2 linked regions of the Homo sapiens genome follow. The protein of the gene in region 1 purifies or fractionates together with the protein of each later gene. This does not show direct contact. Each region holds a gene or a part of one and is shown in the gene's direction. Other genes may lie near its edges.

Region 1 (5,125 bases):
AACATTTTGGGTAATTGCCAAACTGTTTTCCAAATTAGCCATGCCATTTTACAATCCCACCAGCAATGTGTGAGGGTTCCAATTTCAGCACATCCTTAGCAATAATACTGTTAACATCTGTCTTTGTGATTACAGCTATCTTAGTGGATATGAAGTCTTCATCTCCTTGTGGTTTTGATTTGCATTTCCCTCACTGCTAATGATAATGTTCATCTTTTCATGTGTTTATTGGCTATTTGTAAATCTTTTTTTTACAGAATTCCATTAACATAAAACTATCTTAATTGTTCCAGGTCATAAGGTAGGCATTCTGTTGCTACCAACTCTTTACAGCTAATTCGTAGCTACCAGCGAATTACAGCAGAATAGTTATGAGGAACACATTTCCCATCTATCACCATTCTTTTTGTTGTTGTTTGTTTTTTGTTTTAAGACAGGGTCTCGCTCTGTTGCCCTGTGTGGAGTGCAGTGGTGTGGTCACGGCTCACTGAAGCCTCGGCCTTCTGGGCTCAAATGATCCGCCTACCTCCCAAAGTGCTGGGATTACAGGCATGAGCCACCATGCCTGGCCTGTTCTTTTTTCTGTGTACCACCTTTTCCTTATTTTATTAGACACATTTGTTTCTGTCTTAGACAAAATTGATAGCTTACATTTATTGAGGGCTTTACTATGTGCCAGACACAGTGTTAAATGCTCTGCATGTATTATTTAAGCTTTTGCAATTACAGGAAATGAAGATTCTGTTACTTTTACAGATGGGGAAACGGTGTTTTAGTAGCTTTACCAAGGTCATAATTATCTTGTGTTTGGAGACTATATTAAAACAAATTGTATACCTTTTTTTAAAAGCTTGTTTTGCCGGGTGTGGCGGCTCATGCCTGTAATCCCAGCACTTTGGGAGGCCGAGGTGAGTGGATCACGAGGTCAGGAGATCGAGACCATCCTGGCTAACAAGGTGAAACCCCGTCTCTGCTAAAAATACCAAAAAATTAGCCGGGCATGGTGGCGGGCGCCTGTAGTCCCAGCTACTCAGGAGGCTGAGGCAGGAGAATGGTGTGAACCCAGGAGGCATAGCTTGCAGTGAGCCGAGATCTCACCAGTGCACTCCAGCATGGGCAACAGAGTGAGACTCCGTCTCAAAAAAAAAAAAAAAAAGGCTTGTTTTGTTGTTGACAGCCATGTCTAAAAAGAATATACGTTTCCTACCTTTGAGTCTTAAATTCTTCAGTATTAAATCACTGGCCTCTAGTCTTCAGTCCCTGTGGCTTTTATAATTTGTTTTAAAAATTGATGACTGGTTGGGCATGGTGGCTCATGCCCGTAATCCCAGCACTTTGGGAGGCCAATATAGGCGGATTGCTTGAGCCCAGAAGTTCGAGACCAGTCTGGGCAACATGGCAAAACCTGGTCTCTACCCAAAAAAAAAAAAAATTAGCTGGGCTTGGTGGCACACGCCTATGGTCCCAGCTACTTAGGAGGCTGAAGTGGGAGGATCTGTTGAGCCCGGGAGGTCCAGGCTGCAGAAGCTACGTTCATGCCACCACACTCCAGTCTGGGCAACAGAGCGAGACCCTGTCTCATAAAAAACAATAAAAAGAAAATTGATGACCTTCTCTTAAATTTTTCTTTTTAGCTTAATGTTTTTTATTTATTTTTATTTTTAGAGACAGGCTCTCTCTCTGTACTCCAGGCTGGAGTATAGTGGTGCCGTCATAGCTCATTGCAGCCTCAAACTCTGGGCTCAAGTGATCCTCCCGCGTCAGCCTCCCAAGTGAGACTACAGGGTCTCACTTTCACCCAGGCTGGAGCACGGTGGTACAATCATGGCTCACACCAGCCTCATCCTTCTTGGGCTCAAGCAATCCTCCCATCTCAGCCTCCCAAGTAGCTGGGACCACAGGCATGCGCCACCACGCCTGGCTAATTTTTCTGTTTTTTGTAGAGAGGAGGTCTTGCTATGTTGCCCAGGCTAGTCTTGAACTCCTGGGCTCAAATGATTGGCCTGTCTTGGCCTCCCAAAGTGTTGGGGTTACAGTCAGGGGCCACAATCCCCATGCTCAGCCCAGGCTATTTTTTTTTTTTTTTTAAACGAGATGAAGTCTCACTCAGCCTCCCGAGTAGCTGGGACAACAGGCACGTACCACCATGCCCGGCTAATTTTTTTTGTATTTTTAGCAGAGATGGGGTTTAATTATGTTGGCCAGGCTGGTCTTGAACTCCTTACCTCGTGATCTACCAGCCTCAGCCTCCCAAAGTGCTGGGATTTCAGGCGTGGGCCACCGTGCCCAGCCCCAGGCTAGTTTTTAAAATAAAATTTTAGAAATGAGGTATTGCTGTGTTGCCCAGGCTGGTCTGGAACTCTACCACTTGAAAATTTTTAGCATAAAGCAATTACATTCTCACTCAGAAGTATTGTTTTAAGCTAACACTTTCAAATGGTAGTAGATTCATCATTTACAAGTTAAAAAAAAAACCTAAAAACCGGTGTTAATAGCATCAGACAGTTCAGGTAGATTTTTTAAAAGGTGATTCTTAATATAACAAAAATGCTTTGTACCTTATCAAGATAGTTTTTTACTTATCACTACTTAATGTATTAACATGCAGTATCACTGTGAAAATTAAAAGGGCTGTGAGAATTCGGAAAGTCAATGTTGTTTTCTTGTCAGCAAAGCCAAAATAATGTAGTCATAGTTTCTGAAATAAATAACTTACATTTTAAGTACATGATAAATTGATCTTTTTGCCAGAAATAGGAAAAAAAAATTCTTGTTAAAATGTGCTGAGCGCTGAACATTGTTGCATTGTTAGTGAGAATTGTATTTGGCTATTTCGTGACATTTAAACACTCTTATATTATTGAAATTTTGCAGGAGAACGCCCATATAAATGTGAACTTTGTCCTTACTCAAGTTCTCAGAAGACTCATCTAACTAGACATATGCGTACTCATTCAGGTTGGTAAGAAATTGGAACTTTTCTATCATTTTCAGTAAATGACCATTTTAAGGAAATTCTTTTAGACTTGTAACCGAGTCATTTACTTATTATTTATTTTTAATATAATTTAGAAGTCAGAATTTAAAAATCAGTATTCCGTCAATCTGGGGATTCCTAACATGGAATCCAAAGGTGGACCTCCTGAAAATGGAATTTTTGTGTACACTTTTTCTGGGAGGAGGGGCCTTAATTCTCATCAAATCTTTGAAGCGTTCCGTGACTCCAACAAAAGTTAAACTAATGTAGACCAAGACTGATTGATCTTTTAACCCCTACTTCTCATATTTCTCCTAACAGTATAAAGCTGAGAGTCACAACGTGTGGTTGACAAGTGTCAGGGATTCCTTCTTAGCTTCTCAGGTCCTGAAATGAAGGTTTGTTCTGTTTCAAGGTTTGGTCGAGCTTTTGAGGACTGACTGCAAAAGTTTAGCTTGAAAAAGAAAATGATAGACAATCTAGGATGCCAATTTATTAAGCTGTATTAAGAGTATAGGACTGTAACATGAGAGATTCGTCCACTCCAGTGACTGAAACAATCACCATCACCACTCATAATTAGTCCCTGTTGGCCAGCATGGTGGCTCACGCCCTTAATCCCAGCACTTTGGGAGGCCAAGGTGGGCGGATCACCTGAGGCGGGGTAGTTTGAGACTAGCCTGACCAACATGGAGAAATCCTGTCTCTACTAAAAATACAAAATTAGCCAGGCGTGGTGGCGCATGCCTGTAATCCCAGCTGCTCAGTAGGCTGAGGCAAGAGAATTGCTTGAACTTTAGGAGGCAGAGGTTGTAAGCCGAGATCACGCCATCAAGAGCGAAACTCTATCTTGAAAAAAAAGTCCCTATTGTCAAAGTATTCAAGTGGCCAAGTTAAAAAGTAATGTTAGCATTGGTGGTCTTGCTTGAATGGGTAGCCCTGATTGACTCTTGGTGAACTACCACTTTTACTTTTTATTTTTATATTTTTTTTGGAGACGGAGTCTTGCTCTGTCGTCTAGGCTGGAGTGCAGTAGTGCGATCTCAGCTCACCGCAACCTCCGCTTCCCAGGTTCAAGCGATTCTCCTGCCTCAGCCTCCTGAATAGCTGGGATTACAGGCGCGCACCACCATGCCCGGCTGATTCTTGTATTTTTAGTAGAGATGGGGTTTCACCATGTTGGTCAGGCTGGTCTCGAACTCCTGACCTCATGATCCACCCACTTTGGCCTCCCAAAGTACTGGGATTACAGTCATGAGCCACCATGCCTGGCCGAACTACCACTTCTAATTAGAATACAGATTTAGAATGTATATCCCTGTGGGAAAAGTATCTTAAATCTTGCTGTTACAAAAGCCTATGTAGAACCATCTCCCTTAAGTTAATAATTAGCTTAGATCTGTGCTATTCGCTTGAGTAGCCACTAGCCACATGTGGCTATTAAGCTTTCGAAACATTAGTAGTTTGAATTGATACTTATAAAATATGTACTTACCAGATTTTTTAAATTTTATTTTATTATTATTTTTTTTCTGTTGAGACAGAGTCTTGCTGTATCCCCCAGGCTGGAGTGCAGTGGCGCGCATCTCAGCTCACTGCAACCTCTGCCTCCGGGGTTCAAGCAATTCTCATGCCTCAGCCTCCCCAGTAGCTGGGATTACAGGCATGTGCCACCATACCCAGCTAATTTTTGTAATTTTAGTAGAGATGGGGTTTCGCCATGTTGGTCAGCTTGGTCTCGAACTCCTGGCCTAAAGTGGTCTGCGCATCTTGGCCTCCCAAAGTGCTGGGATTACAGGTGTGAGCCACCGCGCCCGGCCACAGATTTCAAACAATGTGAAGAAAAGACTATCTTTCTCTGAAGCAGGTTAGAGAAAAAATAAAAGAATGTTAAATATTTATTTTTCAAGTTGATCATATGGCAAAATTATTGTATACATTGGCTTTAAAAAGTAATAAAATTAATTTTAACTGTTTCCTTTTTACCTTTGTGGTATGACTACTAGAAAATTTAAGATTACATGTGTGATATGCATTATATTTCTACTGGACATTGCTGCCATGAGTTAGTAACAAGACTTGATAATAAGACTTGATTATGTCACAGATTCTGATTTATTTGAACAGCTATGAAGGTGTCCTGTAGTA
Region 2 (4,270 bases), on another chromosome or scaffold:
TGAAAGAATGCATATAAAGAAGGGCTTACTGTAGTCTCTGGTACACAGTAATTTTACTATATGGCCCCTAATGAAGAGGTGGGACAGACTAGCAAAAGGCATACTTTTATATCTTAGTACCCGAGATATGCATGGTCTTTAGGCTTTGCTCTTTACTTGCTGGGTGAGCTTCCATGTGGTAGTTCTCTAAATCACTGCTGCTTCAACTCTAGTAGGAGAGAGATGAATTCTGCTAGCCATCTGTAATGTTTTAAGTATTTGTTAATATTAGGAAGGTATAAATAATGTGAGTGTTGAGGAGAGGTGACTTCAGGTAGGAAGAAGGATCAAGAGAGGCATTGTGGAGCATATAACATTTAACCTTAAAAGATAGGTCTTATAGAGAAGGTGGGAGGAGAAAGAGGGCATTTTAGGTGGAGGACAGATAGGCAGAAACATGGAGCGTATTTGGAGAAGTATGCATATTGGATGCCAAACACTAGGTACATTTACAAATGTTCTCATTGCATCATTCAGTAACCTTCACAGATAAGGTTGCTAAATCTCATGCCAGAAAAGTAACTCCCAAGGACCCCCAGCTGGTGACATGGTAGAACTGAGAGTTGAATCCAAGTTTGACCAATTCTAGTTGTTTCGCTCCTTCTACTAAGCTTCATTGACTTCCAGCTAACAAATGTCTAATTTGTACTAAGATAAAAGAGAGTTGTGAGAAATAAATTGAGAAAATGAAGTTGGAACCAGGTTACTGAGGTCTTTGAGTAGTAGGCTAAGGAGTTTGGACTTAGGGTAGGCAGTAAAAGTCATTAAAGGTTTTTGAGCAACAATAATGGTAGTGAAACTAATTCACAAAGATTAGTCCAGTAGCACTGAGTAACATAAATGGCAGTGGGGGATGTTTCAAAGTGGCAAGTTTGCTAAGACAACTGATGTTAACCAGGTAAGAGAATGAGAGCATGAACAAAGAGCAATGGAAATAGACTGACAAAGAAGTTGAGGTAAGTTGTGAAAGCATAATTGACAAATATTTGGATATATGAAGAATGAGGAAGAGAGAGTAGATTAATCAAAATTACTGTGTGAGAGGATGGTGATGCCACTGGTAATAGGAAGAGAAGATTTAGAGGGAAGATTTGGACATAGTTGAAGATGCTGGTAGCACATTGAAGCATTGTGTCTTGCGCATATAGCTTTACAAAATGGCCATTGTGCTGGATATTCTTTTTGCCCTTCCTGATCTATTTTCCATCTTTATCTCTCTTGTTCTGTGTTCCTGGGAGGCTGACAAATAAAGAACTGCATACTCTCTTTTCTGGCTTTATTCATGGTGGGTTTGGACAGTGATAGAAAAGTGAGGCTGAAATATTTGCTCCTTCTCTTTCTCATATACTTAGCAAGAGATTGTGAGTGGCCACAGCTCTGCTCCAGTGGCCCTCTTATAGCTCTAGGTCTTTTCTGGCTTCTCGTAACTGTCTCCTATTGCTAGATTCTCTAGTCCCAAGAAGGTTCAAACCTTGTTGATTTGCCTTAACTGTGCCCATACCCTTGTAAATAGTTCCTTTTATTAAAACTCTTCAATAACTGAATATACTGTGGTCATCTCTTCAGTGAAATTAAAAAAAAAAACTTCTTTCACATTTTCTTATGACTTGATCTTCCCACACCACCAAACGTGAAGATCTAGCTATTTGCACTAGGTTACTATCCCTAAATTCAGTGCCTCCCTGTTTCTTAGTATGTCAAGTTAAAATTTGTTACTCTTCTGCTGGGTGATTGTGCTGGAAATACAGAAGAAAAAGACAAAAATCCCTGCCCTCAAAGAGCTTATATTTTACTGGGGAGAGACAGGCAATAAGACATAATCAATTATATGGTATGTTAGAAGATGAGAAGTATAGAAAAAATTAGGGTGAGGAATGGCGATTGTTGCAAGGGATGTTTGTGAGGATAGCATACTTTAAAATAGGTGGTATGGGTAGGTCTCTCAGAAAGTGACATTTGAGCAAAGACTTGAAGGAAATGTGGGAGTGAGCAATATAGGTATGGGAAGAGCATTCTAGGTAGAGGATTAGGAAGAGCAAAAGCCCTGAAGCAGGACTGTGTCTGGCCTCTGAAGAAATGCAAATTGTTCAGGGTTGTTGGACCTGAAGGAAGAGGAGGAAAGGAATAATGAGGCCAGAGGGGCCAGATCATGTAGGGATTTGTAGGTTGTTGTAAGGATTTTGGTTTTCACTAAATGAATGGTGAACCATTTCAGTTTTGAGCAGAGGAGTTCCATGATCTGATTTGAATTTTAAAAGATGTGTTTCCCAAAATTCCTATTCCTTTCATACAGCTGCTTTCAATGAAGGTTTATAAGGAAAGCAATCAGAACTACTTGGATAAGGTATAAGTGATCCACAATCTTTTCAACTCTACCATAGGTATCTACATATATATGTTGAGAGATGCTGCTTTTTGGCCAAAATGAATCTTGAATTGGGGGTGTGCAGAAAAAGTTATATCTGGCCTGAGGCTGGTATCTTTTAGAGTGGCCTACTTGCATGGTTGGCCCTTATCTGAACACGTGGATTTAGGGGTATTCTCACTGTTCACTAATAAAGGTGGTTCACTGTACCTAGACTGTTCAAACAAGATGATTTATGCTAAACACCTGCTTTCCTTCTGGGAGTATGGAATTTTGGTACATGCCAGGTAAAGGATGTCTATATGACCAAACTCCCAATGAAAACCTTGCATACTGAGTCCCTAGGCAGAAACATCCCTCGTATAAAAATGTGCTCTGTGTGAATCTTCATGGGAGGGAGAGATCCTAAAGAAGCCTGCACATGGATTCCTCCAGATTCTGCTTATGTCTTTTTCCTGTATGATCCAACTGTGTACACTTACTGTGTCACTGTAATAAACTTTAGCCATGAGTACGATACTTAGCAGTGCTGAGTTTTGTGAACCCTTCTATCAAATCTCAATATGGGCTTGGTCCGGGGGATCCCTGACACAGGCAGATTTTTTTTTTTTTTTTCAAAGAGTCACCAAGTTAATTGGAAAACATCAGGTTATGGATAGAAGGAGCAGTTGGGCAACCTGTCACAGAAGTCAGCCAGCTCTGTCTAGTGGAGAGCTCTTCTGAGCTGTTTCTGCTTTGTTAATTCCTTTTCTTTCTCCAAAAGCTTCCCTCCATTTGGTTTTGTCACACTTTATACATTTGTAACAAACTGCTGACCGGAATTTGTCCATCAGGTTATGAAAAATGGCAAATGAGGAGAGTAAAATTATGGATTTATTTATTAAGAACTATTAAAGTATTCATATGCTCTGGGACACCATTACTAGGAATTTAACCTTAACAGAACAGTTTATTGAAAAATTTATTGAAAGGAAAACAGTCTTTGCATAAAAATTATGACGTAGCAAAAAATTGGAAACTAAATGTCAAATATTAGGGAAATGTTAACTGTGGTCTGTCAAAAGGTGAAATATTAACTCAGTGTTATCAGGTGAATGAATTAACAAGATGTGGTATATACATACAATGGAATATTCAGCCATAAGAAAGAATAAATTTCTGGTATATGCTACAAGATGAATGAAAACATGCCAAGTGAAATAAGCCTGCACAAAAGGACATACTATGATTGCACTTAAATGAGGTACCCAGAGTAGGCAAATTCAGAGAGATAGAAATGGGAAATTACTGTTTAAGGGATACAGAATTTCTTTTCAGATGTTGAGAAAGTTCTGAAAATGGATAGTGGTGATTGTTATACAACATTATGAATGTACTTAATGCTGATGAATCGTATATTTAAAAATGGTTAAAATGGCTTTTTTTCTTTTTTTTGGAGGCCGGGTCTTACTCTGGTGCCCAGGCTGGAGTGCAGTGGCATGATCATAGCTCACTGGAGCTTCGAACTGTGGGCTCAAGTGATCCTCCCACCTCAGCCTCCCCCGTAGCTAGAACTGACTACAGGCACGCGCCACCACAGCTAGCTAATTTAAAAAATCTTTTTGTAGAGATGGAGTCTTGCTATATTGCCCAGGCTAGTATTGAACTCCTGGGCTCAAGTGATCCTCCCACCTCAGCCTACCAAAATCCTGGGATTACAAGTGTGAGCCACCACACCTGGCCTAAAATGGCAAATTTAATGTATATTTTACCACAATAGAAATTGTAATGAAAAAATATATTATTTAACATAATAAATATGTAAGTATATTAAAGTAGTGGGATGAAAAAATTGTATCTTTTAAATATTTTTTTAAAGACAAGGGC

What was found. The genes of interacting proteins can lie anywhere in the genome.
Region 2: the proteins of REST (region 1) and HNRNPA0 purify together in Homo sapiens (affinity purification with mass spectrometry, with the first as the bait; one large-scale study listed by BioGRID). This does not show direct contact.

Annotation. Positions count from the first base shown.
Region 1 is NC_000004.12:56,916,913-56,922,037, forward strand, and holds part of REST (RE1-silencing transcription factor), read left to right. Parts: intron 1-2,874; coding exon 2,875-2,958; intron 2,959-5,125. UniProt on the Homo sapiens protein: Transcriptional repressor which binds neuron-restrictive silencer element (NRSE) and represses neuronal gene transcription in non-neuronal cells.
Region 2 is NC_000005.10:137,744,304-137,748,573, reverse strand, and holds the end of HNRNPA0 (heterogeneous nuclear ribonucleoprotein A0), read left to right. Parts: 3' UTR 1-2,923; downstream 2,924-4,270. UniProt on the Homo sapiens protein: mRNA-binding component of ribonucleosomes. Specifically binds AU-rich element (ARE)-containing mRNAs. Involved in post-transcriptional regulation of cytokines mRNAs.